Linked DNA regions of Homo sapiens. The protein of the gene in region 3 purifies or fractionates together with the protein of the main gene of each other region. This does not show direct contact. Each region holds a gene or a part of one and is shown on either strand. Other genes may lie near its edges.

Evidence for each region.
Region 1: the proteins of DHX38 (region 3) and SLU7 fractionate together in Homo sapiens (co-fractionation; one large-scale study listed by BioGRID). This does not show direct contact.
Region 2: the proteins of DHX38 (region 3) and NKTR purify together in Homo sapiens (co-immunoprecipitation; one large-scale study listed by IntAct). This does not show direct contact.
Region 4: the proteins of DHX38 (region 3) and PPP4R3B purify together in Homo sapiens (co-immunoprecipitation; 2 studies listed by BioGRID and IntAct, with this or other methods). This does not show direct contact.
Region 5: the proteins of DHX38 (region 3) and WDR11 fractionate together in Homo sapiens (co-fractionation; one large-scale study listed by BioGRID). This does not show direct contact.
Region 6: the proteins of DHX38 (region 3) and PITHD1 fractionate together in Homo sapiens (co-fractionation; one large-scale study listed by BioGRID). This does not show direct contact.
Region 7: the proteins of DHX38 (region 3) and BUD13 purify together in Homo sapiens (co-immunoprecipitation; one large-scale study listed by IntAct). This does not show direct contact.

What each region holds. Positions count from the first base shown.
Region 1 is NC_000005.10:160,412,402-160,416,435, forward strand, and holds part of SLU7 (pre-mRNA-splicing factor SLU7), read right to left. Parts: intron 2,910-4,034; coding exon of another isoform or gene 2,894-2,909; coding exon 2,724-2,893; intron 2,072-2,723; coding exon 1,918-2,071; intron 1,579-1,917; coding exon 1,498-1,578; intron 1,220-1,497; coding exon 1,055-1,219; intron 119-1,054; coding exon 50-118; intron 1-49. UniProt on the Homo sapiens protein: Required for pre-mRNA splicing as component of the spliceosome. Participates in the second catalytic step of pre-mRNA splicing, when the free hydroxyl group of exon I attacks the 3'-splice site to generate spliced mRNA and the excised lariat intron.
Region 2 is NC_000003.12:42,603,257-42,607,290, reverse strand, and holds part of NKTR (NK-tumor recognition protein), read right to left. Parts: intron 1-4,034. UniProt on the Homo sapiens protein: PPIase that catalyzes the cis-trans isomerization of proline imidic peptide bonds in oligopeptides and may therefore assist protein folding. Component of a putative tumor-recognition complex involved in the function of NK cells.
Region 3 is NC_000016.10:72,096,493-72,100,526, reverse strand, and holds part of DHX38 (pre-mRNA-splicing factor ATP-dependent RNA helicase PRP16), read right to left. Parts: intron 3,706-4,034; coding exon 3,518-3,705; intron 2,851-3,517; coding exon 2,746-2,850; intron 1,883-2,745; coding exon 1,735-1,882; intron 1,601-1,734; coding exon 1,482-1,600; intron 1,324-1,481; coding exon 1,247-1,323; intron 796-1,246; coding exon 640-795; intron 92-639; coding exon 1-91. UniProt on the Homo sapiens protein: Probable ATP-binding RNA helicase. Involved in pre-mRNA splicing as component of the spliceosome.
Region 4 is NC_000002.12:55,593,277-55,597,310, forward strand, and holds part of PPP4R3B (serine/threonine-protein phosphatase 4 regulatory subunit 3B), read right to left. Parts: intron 1-4,034. UniProt on the Homo sapiens protein: Regulatory subunit of serine/threonine-protein phosphatase 4 (PP4). May regulate the activity of PPP4C at centrosomal microtubule organizing centers.
Region 5 is NC_000010.11:120,857,626-120,861,659, reverse strand, and holds part of WDR11 (WD repeat-containing protein 11), read right to left. Parts: intron 3,018-4,034; coding exon 2,864-3,017; intron 1,552-2,863; coding exon 1,378-1,551; intron 1-1,377. UniProt on the Homo sapiens protein: Involved in the Hedgehog (Hh) signaling pathway, is essential for normal ciliogenesis.
Region 6 is NC_000001.11:23,784,801-23,788,834, reverse strand, and holds the end of PITHD1 (PITH domain-containing protein 1), read right to left. Parts: intron 3,161-4,034; coding exon 3,056-3,160; intron 2,521-3,055; coding exon 2,412-2,520; intron 1,561-2,411; coding exon 1,459-1,560; 3' UTR 603-1,458; downstream 1-602. UniProt on the Homo sapiens protein: Promotes megakaryocyte differentiation by up-regulating RUNX1 expression.
Region 7 is NC_000011.10:116,758,954-116,762,987, forward strand, and holds part of BUD13 (BUD13 homolog), read right to left. Parts: coding exon 3,600-4,034; intron 2,000-3,599; coding exon 1,782-1,999; intron 227-1,781; coding exon 121-226; intron 1-120. UniProt on the Homo sapiens protein: Involved in pre-mRNA splicing as component of the activated spliceosome. As a component of the minor spliceosome, involved in the splicing of U12-type introns in pre-mRNAs.

The DNA.
Region 1 (4,034 bases), on a different chromosome or scaffold from region 3:
TTTGTTTAAAAGAAATAAAACCTTTTTATTGATCATTTTCATTACTTACAGCCTGTTCCACTAATTTTCCTGAGGCTAATTCCTCTTGGAGTTTCTGGGCTTTCAATGTTCGTTTTGCCTTTAAAAAAAAAAAAAAGAAAGAAAGAAAGAAAAAGTAAACATTTAAATTTTACTTACAACATTCAAGTCACCACCTAAATTTTTATATATTTAAAATGAATAACTTTAAATTAATTTATTTCAGAAAAGGTCACTGAACAAACCTATCTCTTTGGGATTCCTTGTAGCCCTAGACCTATTACTCTATAAAGAGCAGGAGTTACACAGTGTTTGAACCAGGCATTAATGTAAACTGAGCCAAATGGCATCAGTAGTAAATTGCAGGGAGCAAGCCCTGACAAAAACAAGCAGTTGCCACAGAACTCTAGATGACTGACTCTTACCAGGCAGGCGTGGGGTTACCATATATTACAATATTCAAGAAAAGATGAAATCCAGATTTTTATATGAAATCTTATAATTTTAAAATGATACCTCTAATTAAAAAAAAAAGGCAGTGTGACTATGACTTCAAAGGAATAAGGGTGAATAGGTCAAATCATAACAGTAAAAACTGAAGTTGGGTTAAAATAAAATAAAATTTTCTGAAACAAATTATCCATTCCCTTTCTACTACTCCCAAATGCTATGGGAGGCAACTATAAAATAGGTTCATGGGCAAGCTATAGCTTGGGGCCATACATTTCTAACCTCACAAAACCAAAAGCTTTGGACACTAATCTGTCTTCATGCTTCCAATATCTTTTGCTACCTAAGTCAGGGAGTAAAGGACCAATATAAGAATCAAATAAGAAGAAACTGCTGGCAAGTATGGCTAGCACACTATTTCCTTTACTCAATATTACAATTATAAAGGTAGCCTATACAGTAGTACTACTATTATAAAAATGCTACCATTTTTAAAGTGCTTCAAGATTTGAAAAGTAGAGCTGCTAGAGATACAGCAAAAGGACGATTCTTTAAAAACCCCAGGAAAGCAGGGAATTTTGCTCACCAAATCAACTTTGGCATACTCTTCAACAATTTTCATGTGTTCTTCTGGATTGTAGCCATTCCACCGATCCCTCTTCCCATCATAGTCAAACATCAGTTGAGGCTGGACATGTTCATCTGGAGCTATATTAGTACCTGTAAATTTGGCTCCAACTCGCCTAGGTCTCTAAAAACAGAGTAAGATTTAATCTTTTCCTAAGTTTTTATGGCCCAAAGGAAAACTTCATACAACTTTTACAGAGTGGGCACTTTACGATCTATTCAATTTACAGTTAGTCTTACAGTAGAAAATTTTGTTGGTGTTGAACCAATTCCACTGAAACTAATTTTTATTTAACTTGTACCTAAATATAGGTGATTTCAGAAAAAGAGAAGTTAGCTCTCTGACAAAGAAAAAAGAAAGACTCTGACAACGGTTTTCAAAATTTTCAAAGGTGAACTTACCTCAAAGCAGTCTTTCTTTTTGTGTGTCATGGCCCCACAATTTTCACATGCTCCTTTGCGGTACTTAGTAATTATGGAATTCTATAAATATATATAAAGAAAAACAAAAATGTCTTAACCACGTAAGTTAGAAATAACTTTGACTCTCATTACTATTTTGTCTAGGGAAATGATTTCTTTGTTAAAAGGAAAATAAGTTAGAGTCTCCACACATTTATAAATGTGAAACTTTAAAGAGTTCAGGAGTGTAAAATTTATATAAGAAACACAAAGATAAAATAGTAATGCACTGTGAATTTCAATACCAGATAAAGGGTTTTATTATCTGTTTCTACTTTAAATAGTATTGCATTAAAAATTCTTACATTAAGTTCTTAAACTCTCCATATCCATGAAGATGTATACAGGTTGCCTACATACCTCTTTTACACCCCTCTTGTACCATTCTCCAGATGAGCTGAACTGCTTTTGTTTTTCTGGTTGTGGTCTCTGGTGTTTTAAAGTAGGTCTTTTTGAAGGATCAATATACCATGGCACTGAAGAAATATACTGAGGAATATGGGGGTTGATGTCTCTGTAATTAAAGTAAAAAAAAAAAAAATTTAAGGATAAAATTGGAAAATAATCAGTATTACAATTACAAAGGTAGCTTATACAAAATCTAAGAACAGAAATATTGCAGTGGTAGGGGGAAGAGAACAAGGTTGCTATCTCTATACTATAATAAAGAATAATTAAAAATAAAGAAGTAATTTATTTTAGAGTGAAAATATTTCCAACTAAGAAACTAAGAATAGTGATATAACTGAAGGGGGACAAGAGAGGAAGGAAAATAGAGATGTGTGTTAGTAATCTAAATCTTCTATCACAAGAAGTTTTGGTTCAAATAATGTCTATAGTCAATTAATTAAAATAATTGTGTAGGTATTATTATCTAGAGATGTGACGGTAACAACCAGAAAAACTCAAAATAGAAAGATTTCATAGCAGTCACTTCTGTAGAGCAGGCCAGGGGTGGGAACGGTAAAAAAGGACTGTTGCTATTCATTATAAGCCCTTCAACATAATTTCATTATTAAACCATATGCATATGAGTTTGATAAAATAAAAAACAAAAATGACATAAATGAAGAGAGGTTCCTCTCAAAGGATGAAAAATTAATAAACTAAGTAGACATGAATTTGAATTCTGAATGAATGGATCATACAAAAAATTAAGTACTTACTTTCCTTCTTCATCAACTTCTGCAGGAGCATTGCCCAATTTTCGCTGTTCTTCTAGCTCCTTCTTCTTTCTCCAGTCCTCTCTGGTCATCTTCTTTGGTTCTTCCAAACTCATTTCTTTGGACCCCGATAGGGGTGCAGCATTAACTGCATCTACAACTGTGGCTGACATGGTTATCTGGCCTCCTCTAGGAAAAGAAGTGAAACTTACAGTAAAAAGTAGGCCTTCATGAATTCACTCAAACTACCAAAAATACATCCTAATAATATATACTGTTTCATATGTTTTTTTTTCTCCTATATTATGTGTAAGGAAGGGTCTCTTCCCCCTCCTCAAGGTCTCTACATACTGTTAGCACTGTTTCTCTCTCAACTCCAATTTACAAATGGAGAGAGACACACACGTGTATTTAAAATTTCACAGGACTCTTTTCTCATATCCATCCTTAATCCCTCTTTCTGTGTATGTCTCAAACTTTTCTAACACAGTAACTCTTAATGAGAGAAAAGAGGGTCCTATCTCTGTACCCCTTCAAGAATGAATATCTCAAGAGTTATCTATATTCACTGCCTCCATTTCCTCACCTTCTATTTTCATCCTCACTCACTCTAACTTAGCCCTCCATTCCCTACCATTCTAAAGAAAAGAGTTACATCATTAAGTCATCAAGGACCATTGTGCTAAATCCAATGGACATTTTTCAGCTCTGTTCCTTCCCTTTTTATATATTATGTCTTGACTTCCCTGACACTACATTCTCTTGGTTTTTCTTTTTCTTTTTTTTTTAGAGACAGAGTCTCGCTCTGTTGCCCAGGCTGGAGTGCAGTGGCATGATCTCAGCTCACTGCAACCTCCGCCTCCCAGGTTCAAGCGATTCTCCTGCCTCAGTCTCCCGAGTAGCTCGATTACAGGTGCCCGCCACCATGCCCGGCTAATTTTTTCGTATTTTTTGTAGTGACAGGATTTCACCACACTGGCCAGGCTGCTCTCAAACTCCTGACCCCAGGCCATCTGCCCACCTTGGCCTCCCAAAGTGCTGGGATTACAGGCGTGAGCCACTGTGCCTGGCCCTCTTGGTTTTTCTTGTACCTCTCTTGTCATCAAATTTTGCCCAGTTATTTAATGTTGGATTCCTCAAGGCTCAGTCAGCACCTTTTAAGCCACTCTAAACTCCCACTAATGGATAAGCTCATTTACTTCCAAGGCTTCAATGGTCACAATACAACACTGCTGGCTCTCCAACTTATTTTTCTATAAAATAAAAAATAATAAAGGAACAACGTATTTTTCTATTCAAGACTTTTTATCTGAG
Region 2 (4,034 bases), on a different chromosome or scaffold from region 3:
ATTCCATCAATTCTTCTGTATCTATTAAACTTGAATCTTTCTGTTAAGAGCCGCACGCACCCACCCCATGTCAAAAGTAACACAGTATCGACACAAAAAGAGCCTGGATCCCTCACATGGACAGCCCTGATCTGCTGATTCTGAGTGCTGTGTGACAGAAAAGCAAAACTTTTATATTGTTGTAAGTACTGTTATTTAACCTTTATGTTAGAACCAATCTTATCATTTAGCCTAACTAATACAAGGTATCTTCATATGAGGGTAAACTACAGTCACCAAAAGTGATTACGTATCAGAAGGCTGAGGTGGGAGGATCATTTGAGACCAGGAATTTGAGGCTACACCACACTATGATCATGCCTGTGAATAGCCACAGTACTCCAGCATGAGCAACGCAGTGATACTCTGTCTCTAAAAAAAAAGCCAAACGAAATTTTTTTTTTTAGGGATAGTGTCTCACTATGTTGCCCAGGCTGGTAGGTTTCTAACTCCTATGCTCAAGCAATCCTCCTGCCTTGGCCTCCCAAAGTGCTGGGATTACAAGCATGAGCCACTGTGCCTGGCCAAGAAAAAAATAAAAATTTAAAATAAAAGTAAAGACAAAATATTAAAAAATGTTAAAAAGTGATTACATAAAGATTAATTGGTGTTTAATAAAATAAACATTGCTGAATTAAGAATCAGGCTTCAATTCTTTGTACAAGTATACATACATAGGGAGTGAAAGCAAGAATTCAGGATTTCACTTTACAGCACTGTCTCTCGGACTTTAAGATACAATCTCTGGGAACAAAAGGGACCAAAATCAAAGGTCTACCTGCACAATACCTAAATATGAAAGCCCCTTAACTTGACTTAGTGTCCATACTCCTGCACATGCAATACTTAAAGCAACTTAAAAAAAAAATCAGATACTGTGCTATATATACTTAACAAATACAGACTGCTCTACAAGAACAGTGATAGAATTTTAAGAAACACTGCATTATCGAAAATCACATATAAAAATAACTATTTCCATATAAAAATGGGAACTGGGGGGGACAAGGGAGTTTCCAGTTGCAGTAAAAATATTTTTTTCTTTAGGAGTATCAATAATAAATTTTAGCTATAAGAGGACGTTATAAAATCTAAACATCATTGAGGAAACCCTACAACTGACCAAACCTCATTTCTGCCTCCATTCCCAGCACTGTCATTAGCACAGTGGCCTTCAAATCAGTTAGGACAAACAAGAATGACTCAGAGCAGCAGAGCTATCCAACTGTTCTCTCCCACGCCACTCTTCCCCACCTGCTTATCCGATTGTTATACCAAACAGTAGTGTGCCTAATTAAAATTGTGCTCCTTAATCCACCCTATTAGAGTAAGTTCATGTTACTCTAATACAATCTATAAGATGGCATTATTTAATTACTCTTCTCAACAATCTTGTTATGTAAGCACTATTACACTGGAGTCCTATTATTAGGTTAATAATATAACAGGTTAATGAGCATATACAGTGCAAGTCATTTAAATTTCAGGCCATTGCATCTAGTCACTCTACTCATGAGCTTATGACCCAGGGTGACCTTGAGAGCGGAGATGCATTTCTCCTATTCCCTCAGAACAAACCAGATCCCATATACCTCACTCGAAGTATGAGCTATTTTGAATGTGAGTCTAAAGTTTAGTTTAATTTTGAATATAAGCAAATTTTCCTGTCCTGTTAGCTTTGGAACCAAATTAAGAACAAAACTGTATAGTAGTTCCATTTCACAAAGAGGTTGTTAAACGGCTTGACCAAGGACACAAGTAGTACTCAAACATTTGCCTGAATCCTTTGTCGCCTCTTAAGACTAATTTCTTGGTATCACTTCTAAATACTTTACAATGTTTGCTAAAAACACATTTTCCAGTCTGTTTTTATGAATCTTAAGCAGTAAAGCAAATCTAAACATAACTAATTATATTAAATGTATACAGTTAAACATACTGACTAAAAGACATTGTCAGAGTGGGACAAGACCCATCTATTTGCTATCCAGAAGAAATCCACTTTAAATATTATACAGAAAGGTTAAAAGTAAAAGGATTGAAAATGATATACCATGTAAACACTAATAAAACGGAAGTAACTATATTCATATCTGAGGCAAAGGAAACTTCAGAGCCAGGAAAGTTACTAGGAATATAAGGTGTCATTACATAATAATAAAAGAGTTCACTAAGAAGACAACAATCCTAAATATGTATGTACCCACCTAAGAGCCTCAAAATGAATGATGCAAAAACTAAGAGAACTTAAAAGAGAAATACGGCCGGGCATGATGGCTCATGCCTGTAATCCCAGCACTTCGAGAGGCCGAGGCAGGTGGATTGCTTGGGCCCAGGAGTTCAAGACCAGCCTGGGCATCATGAAGAAACCCTGTCTCTACTAAAAATACAAAAAATTAGCCAGGCATGGTAGCTCACACCTGTAGTCCCAGCTACTGGGGAGGCAGAGGCACGAGAATCACTTGAACCAGGAAGGCAGAGGGTGTGGTGAGCCAAGATCATGCCACTGCACTCCAGCATTCCAGCCTGGGCGACAGAGCAAGACTCAGTCTCAAAAAAAAAAAAAAAAAAAAAAAAAAAAAAAAAAAAAAAGGAGAGAAATAGATAAATCCACAATTACAGTTGTTATAGTTGCAGACTTCAATACTCTTCTCCTGGTAATCAATAAACAAGTAGAAAATCAGCAAAGATATAAAAGAATTGACCAACACTAATAGCCAACTGGATTTGACATTTATAGAACACACTACACAAAAATGTACATTCAAGTGCAGAATGTACATTCAAGTGCACAAAGAACGGAAATCATGTGTGTTCTCTAGCCATAATGGAATTAAATTAAAAGTCATTTGAGACTGTCTCAAAAAAAAAAGGTATCAAATCAACAATCTATGCTTCAACATTAAGAAACTAGAAAAAGAACAAAATAAAAATTGAAGCAAGCATTAGAAAGAAAGAGAACAATGAAATTGAAAACAAAAATAGAAACAAAATTCAATCAGATCAAAATCTGGTTCTCTGAAAATGTATAATGAATAAACCTCTCGTCAGACTGACAAAGGAAAAAGACAAAAGGAAGAATTATCAATATCAGGAATGAAAAGAGACACCACTACAGACCCCACAGATATTAAAAGAGGCTGTGACAAACAACTCTAAGCACATAAACTTGACAACTTAGATAAAATGCACCAATTTCTTTAATAAAAACCACAGGCTAGGCACCGTGGCTCACACCTGTAATTCTAGCACTTTCGGAGGCCGAGGTGGGCGGATCACTTGAGGTCAGGAGTTCAGACCAGCCTGGCCAACATGATGAAACCCTGTCTCTAATAAAAATACAAAAAAATTAGCCAGGGGTGGTGGCACATGCCTGTAATCCCAGCTACTAGGGAGGCTGAGGCAGGAGAATCGCTTGAACCTGGGAGGCGGAGGTTGCACTGAGCCGAGATGGCACCACTGCACTCCAGCCTGGGTGAAAAAGTGAGACTTCGCCTCAAAAAAAAAAAAAAAAAAAAAGTTGTGTAAAATCCACTATTTAGTTAATATACTCAAAAAGTGCTAGTTATTTCACAAGACTGAACCATATGAAATTTCCAACTATCAAATGATTAAACCTAGAACAATGTAAGCATTGCATTTCCTTGTTTTATATGATTCGGCGTTCTCAAGAGTGCTAATCACATCTACACATCTATCACAATGAATTGCCTTGGATGTTGAGGAATGAGGTTCATTGAACATTTGTCAAACATATTCTGGAGATTTTTCACAACACAGGTTATGTGCAAATCTAGGATCTGAACATTTACTAGGAAAGGAGTACTTAACTACAGAAATTTTTATTTGTACTTTTTCTTAAGCTGTTTTTTTTTTTTTTTTTTTTTTTTTAGAAACAAGATCTTGCTCTGTTGACCAAGCTGGAGTGCAGTGGTGCAATCATAGCTCATGGCAGCCTTAAACTCCTGAGCTCAAGCCATCCTCCCACCTCACCC
Region 3 (4,034 bases):
CCGCGTTGTCCTCTTCAAAGTCCTCATCCACCTCCAGCCGATGGACCACCCCACTGGTGAGCATGCGGTTTGTCTCCCAGCGCTCGTTATCCTGTGAGGACACAATGGGAGCCACACTCAAATTGCCACCCCAAAGGTCGTCCTGAAAGGTTATGAGGTAAGTCCACACATCAAGTCCTGACAGAAGGCCACTGGTAGCTGCAAAGATGTCACAGGCCTCTACCCACAGCTCCAAAGACAGAAGAGGTGCTGATCCCAAATCACCTGCAGGAGTTTGTTCCAAGCAGCAGCACCTTTCATCTAAATCAGAACCTCTAGAGGGACACACAAATGGTAAGTGTCCCTAGCCCACATCAGAGACACAAAGAACACAGACCACAGAGGCAGGTCCCAATGCACCTGTTCCCATCAACAGTACTTCCCCTCAAGGAAGTACTGCAAAAGAGAGAAGTACGAGCCGGGGCTTTCCTTAAGCTACTAAAAGGCTCATCACCCACTCCTCTTCCACCTCCAGAGGATCTGGGCTTCTCGGCAATCAGGGGACAAGCTGTGCTGCCCTCACTTGGGGATAACCTGCTGCTTCCCCACGTGCTCTACCTCCAGCTCTGAATCTGCTCCAACTTCTGCAGGCAGCCTCACCTCATTGATCTGTCTCCGCTGAGCTGAAATGCGCTTCTGCTTCTGTTTATGCAGGTGCTGCTCCCGCCTCCTCACGTAGTCCTCGGAGGAGTAGGCCAGCGGGTTGTGGAACTCGTCATAGCCCTCGTCCATCATGTACCAATCCCGATCGGCTTGCTGCAGGGCAGGAGGCAAAGCAAGGGAGTGAGGGACAGATCAAGTTTATGCACGAGACATGGCCAACAGAAGAAGGGACGCTTGGTAGGAAGTCACTACTGCAGTGGAGCTACCCTTGTGAGGGGTGCAGGAGAGGCCTCCCTGCAGACACATGCCATCTGGAGGAGAACCACAGTGGGCAACTACACAGGACTGGAGGGCAGCCCATCACGATAGCACTTCTTAGATTTACCACATGGTGGCACCAACACATAACAGAACAGTTAGGTCAGCCTACTGCAGTGAGTGACAGGGTTCACCGTGCCGTCTATGCCTCTGCAAAGAGACTCCAGGGCATTGGGTCTGAACAGGGCTCAGGTGTACCCTCATCAAAGCCCAGTCCTGCTAGAGGGTCACCCATCTACAGACGGCCACCAGCCCCGATCAGCCCCTCAGAGGTATAAAACTTTACCCTCTGGTCATCTTCCCACTGCTGCCGCTCCTCCTCCGTGTCAAATGAAATTCCTTCTTCGCCCTCCTCACGTCTTCCTGGAGGAGCACAGGAAGCAGGTCAGTCCATGCCCTGGCCTGTCCCCAGCGGCCCCAGACAGATCTGCAGGGCCATGCAGCTCCAGAAGGGCAGCCCCTGCTCATCCTCGCTAGGGCAAGCAAGCCTGCTCTTCTGCCTGCTGCCCCACAGGCCTCACCTCGGCCCCTGGACAGACGCGGGGTGGACCCCAAGTGTCTTCTGTCATCGGCCCACTCGTTATATTTGTAGGAGGGAGTTGGCAGAGGCGTGTCATCCGAGTACTTGCCCCTCACAGACCTGGGAACAGCAGCACCAGCATCACAAAACTGTCACTGAGCTAAGCCACGTCCTCCTGGCCACCATCTGCTCTCCCTGCCGAGGCTCCTTACCGCCCACCCAGCGAAACTGGGCTGCTCTGCCCAGAACATCACCTGTCTCGATCTCGAGTGGACAGCCGATGGCTCCGCTCAGAATCCCGATAGGAAGGCGTCGGGGAGGGCGATTCCCACTGTGAGCGCCTTGAGGAGCCATAGCCACTGTCCTCTTCCTCCCAGGTAGACCTTGAAGGGGTGGCTGCATCTGGGCCACAAAAGACACATCCACAGGAAACATCTCACTTAACCATGACATGGTCTAGAACCAGTTGCCAAAAGTCAATTCCCCAAATTTACTCCTTTTACTATTTCTAAACCTTGCATGTATCTATAACGGTTAAGATCGGTTTTGACAGTTTTTAAAGATATCTCAATTTTTAATGGTCCAGGATGTATTTTTCCTTTTTTTCTTTTTTTGAGACAAAGTCTTGCTCTGTCGCCCAGGCTGGAGTACAGTGGTGTGATCTTGGCTCACTGCAACCTCTGCCTCCCGGGTACAAGTGATTCTCCTGCCTCAGCCTACCGAATAGCTGGGATTATAGGTACCCACCACCACCCCAGGCTAATTTTTGTATTTTTAGTAGGGATGGGGTTTCACCATGTTGGCCAGGCTGGTCTCGAACTCCTGACCTCAAGTAATCTGCCTGCCTCAGCCTCCCAAAGTACTGGGATTACAGGTATGAGCCACTGCACCTAGCCAATGGTCCAGTTTGCATTCTGTGTTTATGACAACATTTTAAGGGATATTTACTTTATCTCTACAAACACACCCTTCTTGGATATAAGTAGTTCTTTTTAATAAACACTTCTTCTACCTCCAGCTCCCTATTCTTTCCTACCATTTGGAAAACTGGCCATTCAGCAAACCAGCCTCTCACCTTACAGGAACCATATCCACCCCAAGTGCAGAGCTGTGCCCACCTGACTCAGAACCAACTATCCCAAGATGTTCATGGTAGAATCGGGAATTCTGACTCAATGCCTCAGCAATCTCACTGAAGACGAGAGTCACTCACTCTGCCTTTTATACACTTGAATCCTCACAAGCCACCAAAACAGTGAGTCTACCTTTAGGTCGATGTCGTGGGCTCTCGGGTTCATTTCTTCTGCTGCTACGCTCTGACCCTCCATCTCGCTCTGATCTGCTGCTGTGCCTACTTCTATCCCGCTCATCTATGAAGAGTCACACGAAGCTTAAAAACATGCATCCCATCCTAAGGTATACACATCTTCACCCTAGAGAAAGGACAGGCTGCCCACTCACTCACAGGTGCAACCTGCACTGCTCGAATGTGATCCGTGGACTCCTGAAACTCACCTATCCCCATTCTCCCAAGGGGGAAAAATAGTTACTGCCTAGAAAATTTCAAACCCACAGTAACAGTTATTTTCCAGCAAGAATTCAAAAAATACTAGTGCGAGTTTACAGTGAATCATTTTTTTTAATAGTTACAATTCTATCAGCTATAAAACTTAATACTGAGCAAGGACAGCATTGGATTTTTTTGTCTAGCTTTGTTCCATAGCACTGTCCTTTCTCTATCACCAATACTATTAGAAATGCTGGTCTCTTATACATATTTACCCATTATCTCCTTTATCATCAATTTTCATAATAAAACGAAGACCACACACTCAAGGAGAGCAGCTATGTTACAGGCAACAGCTCTTTTCTTAAACTAGTATTCCCAATCCCAGCAGGGTCAAAACCACTCAGGCGGACATCATGCAAATAGGACTCCCTAACAAATGGGTGTTGCAAAAACTCCTGCAACAAGAAAAAGGCTGACACATTTATTCGAATGCTAATGGACAATAGGAACTGTGCTGGACAGTTTACCTCTGTCCCTCTTGCGGTCATAGTCTCGATCCCGCGATTTCTCCTTCTTCCAATCCTTTTCTTCTTTGGACGAGGCATAGACACCATGTTCCCGCCGCTCCCGCTCTCTCTGCCGACTGCGTTCCCAAAACTCTTCGCTCACACCACCCGGATGGGATGGAGTCTCTACCCGAGCAGACCGATAATGTCTGAAACAGGGAGAGCAACTGGTAAAGGCCCCTCCATAGGAGAAAAACTCTGCCCTAAAACCTTTGGCTGTCCAAACAAGTGATCTGTCCTTTTCCACTTTCTCTCCCTGGGACGCAGGCTCACATATGGCAACAACCCAAGGCATTTCTAACCTCTACCATCTCGTCTTTATTCACCTTTGTTTTTCCCCACAAATTCCTACCTACCTTCAGTATTACAGAATCATAATAAAATCATAAAGCTCTAAATCTCCAACAGGAAAACTGAGAGATAAACATGAGCTGTTATTTTCCAGCCTCCGTTCGCTTCCCTCTGGGCTAACCCATAC
Region 4 (4,034 bases), on a different chromosome or scaffold from region 3:
TATCATGCTTAAGATATTGTCAACATGTATTAGCACACATACTAGGAGCCACTGACTATGCTAAGTACTCTCATATAATTTCTCAGTTAATTAACCTAATTTAAGCTAGGATTTATGATAAGGACCTTCGTACTACCTCACTTCGGCCCAGTTACATAAAATTCTTACATATTCACTTGCCTTCTACAACTCACACAGCAGCAAGTTAATGCGCATTTAAGAAACCACAGGTAAGTGTACTAGATACCCAGATAGGTATCTAGAAACACCTACTACCTAACCAAAAATTTCTACATGGAAATCTCAGAGTGAGACTTTAGGAAATAAGTGCTTAGAGGCCACTGTAGGGCCAGGTGTGGTGGTTCACATCTGTAATCCCAACACTTTGGAAGGCTGGGCACTAGGATTGCTTGAGGCCAGGTAAGAACAGTTTAGGCAACATAGCAAAACCCCACCTCTACAAAAAATAAAATAAAATAGAGACCACTGGCCACAATCTTATTTCTTTCCTTTTCACACATAGTTGAAAACACAATTCATACCCAAAGGAAAAAAAAGCATTATATTAAAAAGACACCTGCACTTGTATATTGATCGCAGCACTATTCATGATAGCAAAGTCATGGAACCCACCTAAGTGTCTACCAACAGATGATCAGACAAAGAAAATGGGGTGTATATATACACTGTGGAATACAAATGAAATGTTAAAAAATAATGAAATCATGTCTTTTGTAGCAACATGAATGGAGCTGGAGGCCATTATCCTAAGTGAACTCAGAGGCAGAAAATCATATATCGCATGTTCTCACTTACAAGTGGGTACACAAGGACATTAAGATGGAAATAACAGACACTGGGAACTCCAAAAAGGGGTAGGATGGGAGAGGACTGAAGGTTTAAAAATTATCTACTGGGCACTGTGTTCAATATCACGGTGATGGGTACACTAGAAGCCCAATCTCCACCATTACTCATGCAATACCCATGTAACAAATAAGCCTATGTGCCCTCTGAATCTAAAATAAAAAAAAAAAAAAAAAAATTCAACATCATTGCTGGCACATAAGAGATAATTAAGTAGTAAATGTTATGTAAATAACAGACAGTTCACAGAATCTGGCTATTTCATGAAATGCATCTCATGAAGCAGAAATGAGTAAATCTTTTAGAAAAATAAAAAGCTGCACTTGATTTACGTAATTATAGCCTTCACAAATAAACCTATTATAAAATACATAAAATGACAAAGTTTTACAAATATTTATAGTTCATATAATTTATTTTCTGAATATAAAAAAGTATTTACGATTTACTAGTATGAATTTGGAAACCCTTCTGAAGACAAAAACAGTCATTTGAAAGCTACATATGAGCTTCTGTTCCTGGTCCTCTTTTTATCAACTACAGACTGTGACTCTGTCCAATCTCCTAAGATTATTAAATGTTTTTCTGTCAACAAGTGAAATAGCACCCTGAATTGTATACTACAGTTTAAAAATACACAGGTCCTATATATTATAAAAAGAACCTGATATGTACATCTAACCTCCCCCACACTCATTATTGGTGAATAACAAAAAATTGGTAGGTGAATAAATGACCTGAAAGAAAAGTAAATCCTATGCAAAAAATTAAAGTAAACAATAATAGGTGACTACTGGTGGGAAACGTCGCAAAATGAAGTCGATTAGCTAGGCACTAAGTCAGAGATAGAATCTCAATTATTTGTATCAGGACCCTTTTAAACTTTTTTTTTTTTTTTTTTCAGACAGTCTCGCTCTGTCACCCTGGCTGGAGTACAGTGGCACAATCTCAGCTCACTGCAACCTCCGCCTCTCGGTTCAAGCAATTCTCCCACTTCAGCTTCCTGAGTAGCTGGGATTACAGGCACGTGCCACTGTGCCTGGCTAATTTTTGTATTTTTAGTAGAGATGGAGTTTCGCCATGTTGGTCAGGCTGGTCTCAAACTCCTGACCACAAGTGATCCTCCTGGCCTTGGCCTCCCAAAGTGCTGGGATTACAGGCATGAGCCACCACACCCAGCCTAAACTCTTAAGAATTATGCAGAGGCTGGGTACAGTGGCTCATATCTATAATCTCAGCACTTTGGGAGGGTGAGGAGCATCACTTGAGGCCAGGAGTTTGAGACCAGCCTGGGCAACACAGTGAGATCCTGTCTCTATATAAAAAATAAAATAAATTTTTAAAAATTACAATTAAAACCAAGACTCGTGAAAATATTTATGAATTCATTTTAAAATAAGTCATTTTATGTTTATGTAAATATTTTTTAAGAGAAACAGCTATATGATCCAAAATTTAAACTTTTATAAAAAAGAGTAGCCCCTTTTACATTTTTGCAAATCTCAATACCTGGCTTAACAAATGACAACCAGATACTCATTTATCTTTTCTGGCATTCAGTGTGTTGCAATATGTTCTTTAAGCAAAAGTACATGAAAAAAAAAAAAAAAACACAGCCTCACACTGACATCAAACTAGAAAAAGGAAAACCTCATAAATGCCTGTAAGAGGGGCTCAGGGACTTCCAGAGGTCCACAAACCACACTCTGAGATCCACAATACTAAGTATATAGTAGCTGCTCAATAAACTTAGTGAATGATATGGAAATAACAAAAGCAGTTATGCAGAAAGCTGAGTATAGGCTACTGTTACAAGTAAGACAAGTACTTAAAAAGCATGCTTACTATACTGTTAGGGTGTAAAGGATTAACATGATAAATATAGTATAAAACTCCTATTTCACAACTCAAGGAGACAGAATAAAATCACCTTCATATAGCAAATAGCCACATACTCGTATACACCCCAATAATAACAGTATCTCTCAAAATGGAAGAAAACATACTTTTAACCCTTTACCCATTGAGAAAAAAAAAGTACAGCTTGCTGCAAGGACTCATTTAATTTTACATAAACACGCTCTTTGAGGCCGAAGCAAATCTGACTTTCAAGGTGAAAATAAAATATAAAAACTGTTCTTGGAGTTATTTCTAAATAGAACTAACATCAGAATTGTTTGAATCATCAGATTCGTCTATTTCGAAAAAAAAAATCAGATTCAACAAACGAATCCTCGGGCAACAACTGTTCGAGAATGACAATACCATGTGCAGGACTGCTATGTTTTCTACGATTTGACATTTTCAGTGATTAACAATTACTATAGTTTGTAAATGAAAATATCACTATTAAAACCAGAATGCTATAAATAGAATGATGTCTTCTGTTTCCAAAGTCAATATGCCACAGCAATGCAAAAATAATAATAAAAGCTAGGTATTTTGTGGCAAAGTTATCTCAAGGTAAACACTGCAGCCAAGCACTACTGGCGAGTATTCACAGGACAGACAGGAAAAGGGTTAAATATAGCTGCATTGGCCAGGTGCAGTGGCTCACGCCTGTAATCCCAGCACTTTGGGAGGCCAAGGCGGGCGGATCACCTGAGGTCAGGAGTTTGAGACCAGCCTGGCCAACATGGTGAAACCCTGTTTCTACTAAAAATACAAAAAATTAGTCGAGTGTGGTGGCGTGTGCCTGTAATCCCAGCTACTGGGGAGGCTGAGGCAGGAGAATCGCTTGAACCCAGAAGGTGGAGGTTGCAATGAGCCGAAATCACACCATTGCACTCCAGCTTGGGCAACAAGAGTGAAACTCCGTCTCAAAATAATAATAATAAAAAATAGCTGCATCATCGATATATATAATAGGCAAATTCATAAAGAGTAGAATAGTGGTTACTAAGAGCTGGAAGGAGGGAATATGGGGAGTTACTGTTCAATGGGTTCAGAGTTTCTGTTTGGGATGATGAAAAAGTTCTGGAAATGGATAGTGGTAACTGCTGCATAACACTGCAAATATACTTAATGCCAATGAATTGTACACTTAAAAATTGTTGAAACTGGCCGGGCACAGTGACTCATGCCTGTAATCCAAGCACTTTGGGAGGCCGGGGCAGGTGGATCACCTCAGGTTGGGAGTTCGAGACCAGCCTGACCAACATGGAGAA
Region 5 (4,034 bases), on a different chromosome or scaffold from region 3:
CATTCAATATGAGTAAATCAAAGATGTTAGGTCAACTGACACTCTGGAACACACAATGCTTTCATCAACCAAATTACAGAGATGTAAAGAGCTGATGCAATCAAGTTAGCTGAAAGCCTTGTTGCCTTTTCAGGTTCCAGAACTCATCCTTCAAGGTCCCCTTTGCTTCCTTCTTTTGTGATGCCCTCCTTCCCTGACTCTGCCAACTGGGCCAGCCCTCCTAGGTGTTTCCCCAGCACTGCACCTATGTGAGTAAGTAAACTGGTGACCAAGTGAGTGTATGTATGCACACGTCCATATACAAACATTTACATACATAAAAGCCTAAGCACCCTGTAGTGTATTTACACAGCCACATTTCCCATGTTATTATAATTTCAATTTTGTCTGCCTTTCTCTTCCTCCTTTAACACGTGCAGACACACACACACCCCTCAATAAAAGTTGATGGGTAAAACAATTTTGAGTCATTCAAATCCAGGAAAAACATTCCTTACCATAGCTAATTCCCTTACCTCCTTCACATTTCTGATCATTATCAAAGTGAAGCCTACTTTGACCACTTTATCTCATACAACTTGCATGCCCTCATCCCCCATTCTTCTGCATCCCCTTTATCCTGCCTTTATATCACCTGTCACCTCTTACTACACTAGAATTTATTAATTCATTGTGGTCACAGTTTATGATATGACTTCTTCTCACTAGAATGCAAACTCTGTGAAGGCTCCTGCCTTTTGGGTTCTGAGACATCTTGGTTCCCAGAAGAGTAGCAATAGCTCAAGAAATATCTGTTGGATGATTAAATAGTTTCTAAACAATTTAGCCACAAAAATACCTAAAGCACATCTCATTTTTAGATCATTAGCTCAGGAAAACATTAAAAGCATATTAGCAAAAACTATCTCTGCAAGAAAAAACTTGCTTAGGCTTATTTCTTCTTTACATGCATCTGTTTATGGCACTCAAAATGAATGGCGTGAATTAGGACAATTTATTAAAAAGCAAGAACTTAACTTGGCCACAGACTGAATGAAACCCTTGATTCAAGTTATTTAAATGTTCTTAGAAGAACTAATTAAGTCTGGAGTGTCAAAGTAACTCTCTGTCCCTGGCTAGTCTAATACTATTCACAAATTCAACACAGTGAAGGTGTAGCTTGCTGATTTAATTTTTTATCATATTTGCAATGATATGAACTTATGATTGAGTATGTGTATTAGGAGCTGCAGATATATGGACTAGACATGCTTCTCCACTTCGCTCAGTCATTTTAACATTATAGATGTATAATGTGTGTGTATATCTCATGCACATAGCATTACTATATTATAAATATCTCACTTAACTCATTTTCCACAAGCAACTGTTACTCACAAGTTAAATGTGAGGGATCAAAAGGGTCAAAAGAAAAAGAAAGAATGTTATCTGCATAGCTCTTCTTCCATAGTTTGGTGCCAGTGTCGGCATTCCAGAGCACAATGTAATTTGGCGGGTGGATAGCAAGCAGTAAATCGCGGGAAGCATCTTGATTCCACAACCACTGAACATCTGGAAAGACCCGATAAAGAAAGGCAAAATTCAGAAACCACACTCTCCAAAGTCCTTGGCTAACTTGTCCTTGATATTTAGTTTTTAAAATATAATCTTTAAAAACTTAACCACCAGCCCCAAATGTGACGTGTGTGTGTGTGTGTGTGTGTGTATCAATATTCCAGAGAAAAAACTAATTCTATATAAAAATAAGTTGTCTGGTTAAACTCTCAAGGTAAAAATTTTGAAGTAATCTGAAATATTACTTCAAAGAAAATAAAAGGCAATTTGCCCTAATCATTACTTAAAACTATAAAATCAATATGAAACTCTCTTAGCCACAACCAAGATGTCAGACTTTCCTAATGTTTCTGTGGAATTACTTAATGGAACTTTACAGTTCTTCATGGTTTTTCAAAAAATAAACAGAATATGCAAAGATCTAGTTCAGTACCTAGTACACAGTAAGTATTTAATAAATATTTTTTAAATAGTCATTTAAAAAATTCATTCAGTCAAGAGAGCCACTGGAGGACTTAAGTCTAAAGAATACTGTACTGGGCAGGGCGCAGTGGTTCACGCCTGTAATCCCAGCACTTTGGGAGGACGAGGCAGGTGGATCACGAAGTCAGGAGATCGAGACCATCCTGGCTAACATGGTAAAACCCCGTCTCTACTAAAAATACAAAAAATTAGCTGGGTGTGGTGGTGTGTGCCTGTGGTCCCAGCTACTCGGGAGGCTGAGGCAGGAGAATGGCGTGAACCCAGGAGGCAGAGTTTGCAGTGAGCCGAGATAGCGCCACTGTACTCCAGCCTGGGCAACAGAGCGACACTCCATCTCAAAAAAAAAAAAAGAAAAAAAAAAAGAATACCGTACTGGTTTTAGGTCAGTAACATGAAACGAACAAACAAGCAATCTATATGAAAATGAGAATAAAATTTTGTTCATCTCTGATAATGAACAAATTACTTAATGTAGAGTAAGCACTGATGGCTAGTTCCTAACAGCAGTGGCCAATTTTCCTTATATTGTAGCTTAGATTACAAGATTGTACCACTTACTTTTTCTTATCATGCTTGAATGAGGCTGATATTGCAATTAATGAGTTTTACCAAAGCACAAATCAGTTGAGATTTGAAGAAATATGCCTAGAAGTGTATTAGTAAGGACAGAAAGCCAGATTTAGATCAGCAGAATAGGCAAAACACAATCAAGAGCTAACTTGGAATTGATAAAATTAAATGAATGGGGGAAAACCCCCAAAACCAAAAAACCACTCCAAGAGTAAGTGTATCAATATACACACTTAGCTGAGCAGACTTTCCTCACCCTGGATAGGCTTGGCATGCTCTTGGATCTCACACTGAGCTACTCCTGCTGCTACATCCCAGACGATGATCTTCCCATTGACATCAGCAGAAGCTAACCGTAAGCAATATGGTGAGCCAATGTTATGGTGATAGTTTTCCCTGGCCCATTTAACCTGTATCAAGAAGAAATCAGATCAAGTAAATACTTGCGCTGGATGAAACAGAACATAATTTTCACAAAACATCAACCAGAACCCATACTACATTTATATTACATAAACATTTAGCAAGAATAAACAGAAAACTGGTTTTCATTTTGAAGGCAGCATTTGTGTTACTTTGGTAGATATCTTTAACTGCAGTTACAAAATTGTTTTCTTTGACACATCACAAAGATCCTGTGATGAAAAATGATTCACAGCCTTAATATTTTGGGAAATTTAGGTTAAAACCCCAGGATGCCTTGAAAATCAGTTTTCCTAAGATCTAATTTATGACAAAATACCTAAAATCATATTTAGCAGAATGTTTTTCTGTATTCTAGTCTCCTAACTAAAAGAAGACAACTTAGAAACACAAAAACCTTGCAGAGGGAAAGTCAGGAGAAGGCAAAGTCAAACAAAAAACTCTAGCTGTCTCTCTCTTTCACAAAACATTAAGTTTTTCTCTAAAAAAAAAAAAATGCTTCATGCCTATAGCAACATGATTAACAATAGAATTTTTAAAATAAAAAACACATGAACTCCAGGGCAAATCTGATTAAATTCTTGAACAATGAATACTGACAGAATAAGGGAAAAATTTCATAGTCCTCACTAGGAGTCAGGCCTTCCCTGGTCACTACCACCCCTCTCTTCTCAGTATCCTGCTTATTTTCTTCAAAGCATTTACTACTACACAATTTGTACTTATTTTATTTACATTCTTTTTGCCTATTCATGAGTCCATCAACTGTAAGTTCCATAGGGCACACCATGTGGTCTTTGTTTGCATTTCTATTCTCAGACTTAGTACAGTGTCCAAGGTCTGTTTAATAAGTAGATTTAAATACCACAAATCTATAAATACATATAAATGTATATACCTATATATGTGTACAGATATAAATACACTCATATATAATGCTAAGGTAGGAAAGTAAGCCAACCAATTGCAGTAGTATTCATGAAAAAGATGGAAACAACGTTTTC
Region 6 (4,034 bases), on a different chromosome or scaffold from region 3:
TCAGCCTCCCAAGTGGCTGGGACTACAGGTGCACGCCACCATGCCCAGTTAATTTCTGTGAAATACAGGTTTTCAACCCCACCTTCTTCTTTACTATATATGGGTGTAGGAGTGTTTTTGGCCTACTGTACAAAATTAAGCTTGACCATTCCTGGAGAAACTGATCCAGTCTTGATTTTTTTTTTTTTTTTTTTTGAGACGGAGTCTCACTCTGTCACCCAGGCTGGAGTGCAGTGGTGCAATCTCAGGTCACTGCAAGCTCCGCTTCCCGGGTTCATGCCATTCTCCTGCCTCAGCCTCCTGAGTAGCTGGGACTACAGGCTCCCGCCACCGCACCCGGCTAATTTTTTGTATTTTTGGTAGAGACGGTTTCACCGTGGTCTCGATCTCCTGACCTCGTGATCCGCCCACCTCGGCCTCCCAAAGTGCTGGGATTACAGGCGTGAGCCACCGCGCCCGGCTCCAGTCTTGATTTAATTGTGGCACTTCCTATAATCTACCTAGTCCAAAACAACAACAAAAAATTTCAAAGTTCAGTACAGTTCCCCATGAAATGAAAGTTGCATCAGTGGCTATCAAGAACTCAAAAGAAAATACAAACATTAAGTCTGGCAAGGATTTATTAGGAAGCTTATTAGTCACAGTGAATAAAAGCCATGAAAAGAAGAACTCAAATCTCCAAATTCTGGCATCGGACTTACAACACTAGTTAGAAGCTAATAAACATTAAGGAATTTCCAAGGGGAATCTTAACTAAGTCTCAATCTTACTGACCAGATTACCCACACACATAGAAATGATCCCCATGCTCTCCCCAGACTGCTTAGCTAGGCAGTGGAAAAGACCTTCTCCCCAAGCTTAAGCTATCACGCATCAGCAGGAGACTCCTGTCCTTCTAGCTATAACCACAGGACACATGTGCGTGACAGACAACTCCAAGCTGGGCAACTTGACAAGAATGCTGAACAATGAGAGGGGAAAGGAGCAAGCAGGAACAAGTGTTTTAGTTGGAGACCCTCCTGATGGCTACTACTAACACAATCCGGAGGCATCAGAAAGTTTCCTATAGCCCACAAATAGTTTCCTTTAAAAAAACAAAAACAAAAACAAAAAAACAAGTCACACAACAATCTTGCCACAAAGCAACATGACACTTGGAATCACATGGCCACATTAACTGGAAAAGCAAGTGTTACCCATGACTGCCAGATGCCACCCAGCCCAAGACCCAATTTCCACAGCGCCCTAGAGAACCACGATGGTCCCCTGGCACCTACACAACCCTCCCAGTGGTGTCGTATCTTCCGTAGGCCAGGTTTCTGCAGCAAGCCCCAAAGACAAAGCTTGGCAGAGGCTGTGGCAGCCAACTCTCTCTGGAGCCTCATCCCTTTGTCCTTCCCAACAGGTAGTCGTACATCTTCACTGACACAGCGCCTCTATGGGAGCCTTGGCCAGCCCTTAGGAAATAAAGTGTGTCTGTGGGGTAACCTGATGGACCCTATGGTCTGCTGGGTTGGCAGATGCTTCGTAATTGCAGATGGTCACCTCGTGTCGGCGAAGCTGCAAGAAAATTGAGGCTGGGTCAGCCAGCCATTAAAAGAACTGTCCTTTCCCACACCACACACATTGCGGTAGTCCTTATTCAGGTTCATTTCTAGGAGTCATCATTTAATATCTCCTTATTTTAATACTTAGATGTCATCATCTAATATCTCCCAATTTTGATACTTTTTAACTCCAGAAAGCTGCAAAGATCATTATCATTGATTCACCCTGTAACTTTGAAGATTCAGTCTCCCTACTATAATGGGGGTACCATGAGAATAGGAACTTGTCTATGGTATTATCTTATCCCTGGTTCATGAATAGAAAAGATTATCAAAAATACTCAATGAAAGCATTTGAAAGTAGAAAACTGTGAATTAATATAAATGACAATTTCAGGCTGGGCAAGGTGGCTCACACCTGTAATCCCAACATTTTGGGAGGCTGAGATGGGCAGATCACCTGAGGTCAGGAGTTCGAGACCAGCCTGGCCAACATGGTGAAACCCTGTCTCTACTAAAAATACAAAAAAATTAGCCAGGCGTGGGAGTGGGCACCTGTAATCCCAGCTACTTGGGGGGCTGAGGCAGGAGAATCACTTGAACCTGGGAGGCGGAGGTCGCAGTGAGCTGAGATATATATATATATATTATATATATTATTTATATAAAAATAACAGTTTCAACCCCCTTAAAAATACCTGTAGTTTCTCAAATGAGACGAAAAGTTTATACTGATAAAACCAAGAAAAATAATAAACTGGGAGTAATTATGACACTTGCTCTTTTCCCTTCCCTGGAAGCTCCCATCACCACAGTGTGCAGATATGTAGACATGAGGGGAAAACCTTTCCAACCCCATCTTACCTCAGTCCACTCTCCTCTCAGGCCAATATAAAAGACCTTTGTCGTATCTGCTCCGAAGTTTTTTGAAATATGAATTGAGAGATGATAGACATTTGAAAAACGAGAAATTCTAGAGGATGACAGGAATAGGGAAAGAAGGTATGAATTATAGTTCAATGAGTATCTCACCACCATGTGAAACAACAATTCAGCTCCAGCTTGTAAAAGCCAGGCAAAGTCAGAGCTCCTGAGTTCTTCCTTCTCCTTTGGACAGGCAATTAATTCAATGACCATTTACTGAGCACCTGCCAGATCCTGTCCAAGGCAGTAGGGATAAACACTGCTCCTGCCCTCAAGGAACAGGAATGAGAAATGCTGCATAACCCAGCAGGGATTCTAAAGCACATTTAGTGTTAACCTAAACTAATGGGAGACACATCTTTCCTAAAACCACCCTAGGAGTTCATTCAGATCTGCCAATTGCTTGCAAGTTAACAAGTCTGTGGCTTGCACTGAATCTCTGCCAAAAACTGACCAAGCCAAAGATCAAGTCTCCTCCACTGTTTTAACTCATTTCCAATGCTAAGAGAGCAGGAGACTGGCCAAAAATAAATGGCAAGCCCTATAAGAAGCCATAGAGAATGGAAGACAGGCCCAGTGCTTACTTTGTAGCATACTCTAATTCTCCTGTAAGATCCCGGTTCAGACTAAAGGTCTGATCTGGCTCCCTTTCTGTATCATCAAAGGACATCTGTGGAATATTCTTGTACCTGAGAAAGGAAAGGAAAGAAAAGTCAAGAAATGTGCATTATCACGTTTCAGGTTTTCAAAATTTTCTACTGACTGCTTAAATGGCTTTGGTTCTATCAATAGGAGACTGAATTTGGGGGTCATATTTTAGAAATGACATTTTATACAAGTATCTCCAAATATCTTTTTTTTTTTTTTTTTTGAGACAGAGTCTCACTGTGTCACCCAGGCTGGAGTGCAATGGTACAATCTCAGCTCACTGCAACCTCCACCTCCCAGGTTCAAGTGACTCTCATGCCTCAGCCTCCTGAGTAGCTGGGACTACAGGCGTACGCCACCATGCCCGGCAAATTTTGGTACTTTTAGTAAAGACAGGGTTTCACCATGTTGGCAATGCTGGTCTCTAACTCCCAACCTCAGGTGATCCGCCTACGTCGGTCTCCGAAAGTGCTGGAATTACAGGCATGAGCCACCGCGTCTAGCCTACAAATATCTTTAATCCAACAAAAAAAGAGCTGAGATCTGCAACATAACCCCATGGCATCTTTGAGTGGGTTAATATCACATGAGAAGCAATACACAAAGAGACGGCTCAAACTAGGTCACATGCAGCAAATGCATGGAGAAAATAAACAACTCAGCACATTCAGACCAAACTGAGGATGTTATTAAATAAAACAGCTTACTCATGGGAAAAATACATACTTTGGCAGAAACATATTACACACAGTTAAGAGATAAAAGATCAGGTAACCCAATGCTCAAGCATTTTTTTGTGTCCAAAAACCACGCCATACACTCAGTCACCTTACAGTTCTTAAAACATTTATAACATGAGGATTTCCATTTTGAAAGATCACAAAAGACTGCAATCTCACATCCAAACCGCTAGAG
Region 7 (4,034 bases), on a different chromosome or scaffold from region 3:
TAAAACCAGAGCTGAAATTTGATAGCAATTAAAAGTTCAAAATATCAGGTACAATAAGCTAAATTAAAAAAAAAAAAACAGTATGAGCCTAAATTGGTCTCTGCACTTTCATATTTTTACCTTCAAATGCCATGGTTTCTTGATCCTGTTCCTTGAGCTCCTGCTGTTCTCGCTGTATGTCAGTTAACACCAACCCAGTTTTAGCCCCAGAATACATGTGTGCAGCCTATGCAACGGAAAAGGGAGCATCCAACATTAATGAGATGATGTGACAGTAGGCTCCATGGGTACACAGTTAGTTGCATTTGTGTCTAATGACCAGCAATAATTAAACCTAAAACTCTAGCTTTATATTCTCAATAATTACCATAGGATTCAAAAACTATAAAAGAAAACCATCATCAAAACCATCAAGTTTAAGAATAAGCAGAAACACTAACAATATATTAAATGGAGGGCTACGCATTTGTATTTCTGACTTTTCAGTATATAAACTGCACACATGAAGACTATCTCAGGTCATCTGATCAGAAACCAGTATAAAGCACTAAGCCTTCCATTAGAGACCCATACTGATAAAATATTCCATTTACAGTACAAACTCAAGCAAACCTAAGATCCTTAAATTGTGGATATATTTCATGGTAATAACAGAAGATCTAACAAATGAAAACTTTTTGCTAATTTCCACTTAGCATCAAGATAGCAAATCAGCCCACGAATGAAGCACACAGTATATCTTGATATCCTTCAGCAACGAAATTGGAATAATATTAAGTTGTCCATGAACTAAATGGATATATAAAATGCCAAGAGGTCCAGCTGAAACAGAGACCTCTTTTTTCCCTAAAAAAGAAGAATCTCACTTCCTGGGTAAAGAACAGGCTGGTCTACCCTGCCAGGACCAGTCTTCTCAGAGTCTTCTACAGACAAGATTTACCTGATAAGTCTGCACTGGGGAGAAAAATGCACATCACAGGCTCTATCATTCTGTTTCTTAACCACTTACAAATAAGATTCCTTTACTACTACCAATGTTCTTTACAATATAATTACTCAAGGTTCATATGGATTTTGGGGTTTTTTGGCTAATTCATCAAGCCTTATCATGAATTTAAAACAAACCATTGACTTCTCAGACAACATGATTTCTAAAAGTGGTTTCATATTTTAAGTGCCTCTCCTTAAGCTCTGGATACAGAGACCTATAGTCCAATTTATACTAGTAAATCACTAACACTAGATGCTTACTTTGTCCCAGACACTGTGCTAAGAGTTTTACTTACACTGGCTTAATTATCATAACAACCTTACACAGTAGGTACTACTATTATCCACAATTTACAGATAAAGAAACTGAGGTTTAGAGATATTAAGCATCTTGCCCAAATCTCACAGACAGTAAGTGGCAGAAGGAGAATTTCTGTATGTGATCCGTTTGACACAATGCTTGTGCTCCAAACTTCACTCTGCAAATTACAGTCCTCGGTTTATTCCTAAGAAAATAGGAAGTTTTTCTAGACCTGTTAAAATGAGATTGTAGAATTAAGAGGCTATAAACGCAGAAGCTACTTGGGAAATCTGGTATCTGTAAGTCCATCTGGGATGGGTTATAGCCAGTTTGCCTTCAGAAGGAAAGACCTCCAAAGGTCCTTTTAACTAAGATTTACTACACTTCTCAGAGCTACATCCTTCTTCTTGGCTTGATTCTCTGGGACATATATAAAGCTGAGAGAGAAGAGTCACACGAAAAGAAGGACATGGCTCCTGAAAATCCTGACCTTCTTTCCAGGAGGCTGACTCCTTCGAGGCGGGGACAGGTCAGAATCAGAAGATTTGGTCCTCTGTCTCCTCCTTGGTGGAGAGAGGTCAGAATCAGAGCTCCGGTGTCTAGGTCTATTCCGTGGAGGTGACAGATCTGAATCAGAATCCTGGTGCCCTGGACTTTGTTTATGCCGTGGAGAAGAAAGGTCTGAATCAGTTGCTTTCTGGCAGTCACCTGGATAGGAGCAAAGAATCTGTGTGACTCTGATGTCCTCTAGGTGAAGAACTTACATGAAATCTCCTATGGCTGGGAGAAGAACCTAGAAATTAAAGAATTCCTTACATTATTATTATTTTTTTTTTTTTGAGACAGTCTCAGGCTGGAGTGCAGTGGCATGATCTCAGCTCACTGCAACCTCCGCCTCCTGGGTTCAAGCAATTATTGTGCCTCAGCCTCCCAAGTAGCTGGAATTACAGGTGTGTGCCACCACGCCCAGCTAATTTTTGTGTTTTTAGTAGAGATGGGGTTTCGCTATGTTGGCCAGGCTGGTCTTGAACTCCTGACCTGAGGTGATCTGCCCACCTCGGCCTCCAAAGTGCTGGGATTATAGGCTTGAGCCACCATGCCTGGCCAAAGAGTTCTTTAATCCCCTTGGAAGAATCTAAAAAGATAACTTACCAAGCTAATGTACAATATTTATTTAGTTTTCCTATGAAGAATTATCATTAACCTAAACATAAGTATGGATGGCACAGGAGAAGAGCAAAGTCAGAAACAACTTTTAAGACCAACAGGTAGAATATGGCATTCTATTCCCAAGTGACCACTGACTGTAACTGGTGTGTAAAATCTCCACACACTCCTCTATGTCAGTAACCCCACCCATGGAAAGACAAAATAACTTGTAGTCAGCTCTCCATAGTGTGGCAAAAGTCAGAAATACCTGGAATATAGTCTGATATCCTTGGACTAAAGGATAACAAAGTACTTTAATTTTAAAATTAAAATAGTTCCTAGGAACAAAAGAGGGAGTAAAAAATTTCACTGCACAGGCCTAAGTTCTAGCGACTGTATAAGCATCACAAGTCACCTCCCAAAGGGCATTCTGCAATATGTATCGACAGTCTTTAAAACGCCCACATCTTCTGACCCAGTACATCAACTTCTCAGCTTTCTAGGAAACTTATATAGAAGTAGTTGAATTTCGAGGAAATCTATCTAGAAGTAGATAAGGAAATAATCCAAAATGGGGACAACAGTTTATGTACAAGGATGTTCATTATAGAATTACAGAAGAAAAAACTTAGAAATAACCAAAAACATTCATTATTAGGAAAATGGTTAAATTTGTAATTAAACACTATTAAAAATTATACTAACATAAAGATGTTTTATGGCCTGAGGAAGACTACGTTAAGAAAGGACAGCAGGCAAGATTGCACATGCAATACAAATGTTCTACACAGCCAGAGCTCAACTATATAAAAAATGCAAACCAAAAAAGACTAAGATGACCCTGGCCACAACACTAACAATAATTGCCTCTGAATGACAGAATTTTGTGTCACATTTTATCTTTATATACTTCTGTACATTCCAAAGCTTCTGCAACAAATAAATTGTACTTTTATATGGGGTGGAGCGAGCACATAAAAAGACATATGAAAACCTTCCTCCCTGCCACCATAATTGTTCAACTCTCCCAAACCCAGCCTCTCACTTTTCAAAACTTTCCCAAAGAAATTCCATTCTTATACCTAATAAATCAACTAAACGGCCAAAAGAAAGCTCCCAGGGATACATACATCCCTCTCATGGACAGTCATATGCTCACCTTTGGAATCAAGCTGCTTCTTGTCTCCAAAATGGGATTTTGCTTGCTTTTTTCGTGGAGGAGAGATGTCAGGGTCATACTCATATTTGCTGTTCTTTGGGAATGACAAATGGGAGGCTCCTGACTCCTTCCAATGTGGAGAAGTCTTGCTAGAGGCTCTTTCTGGGGCTTTACCACTTTTGGTTCTGGGCAGGGAATAAGTGACATTAGGAGCCAAATCAGGGGAGTCATGACGGGCCCTTCTGAGTTGCTGTGTGTCTGAAGAGCCAAGAGTCCTCCTAGATGTGTCAGGGGAGTTGTTATGGACCCTTCTGGGGGAAGAGATATCTGAGGAACCATGACGGGCTCGCCTAGGAGGAGAGGGATCTGGTGAATCATGACGGACTCTCCTAGGAGATGCACCTGAAGAATTATGCTGAGGCCTCCTTGGGGGAG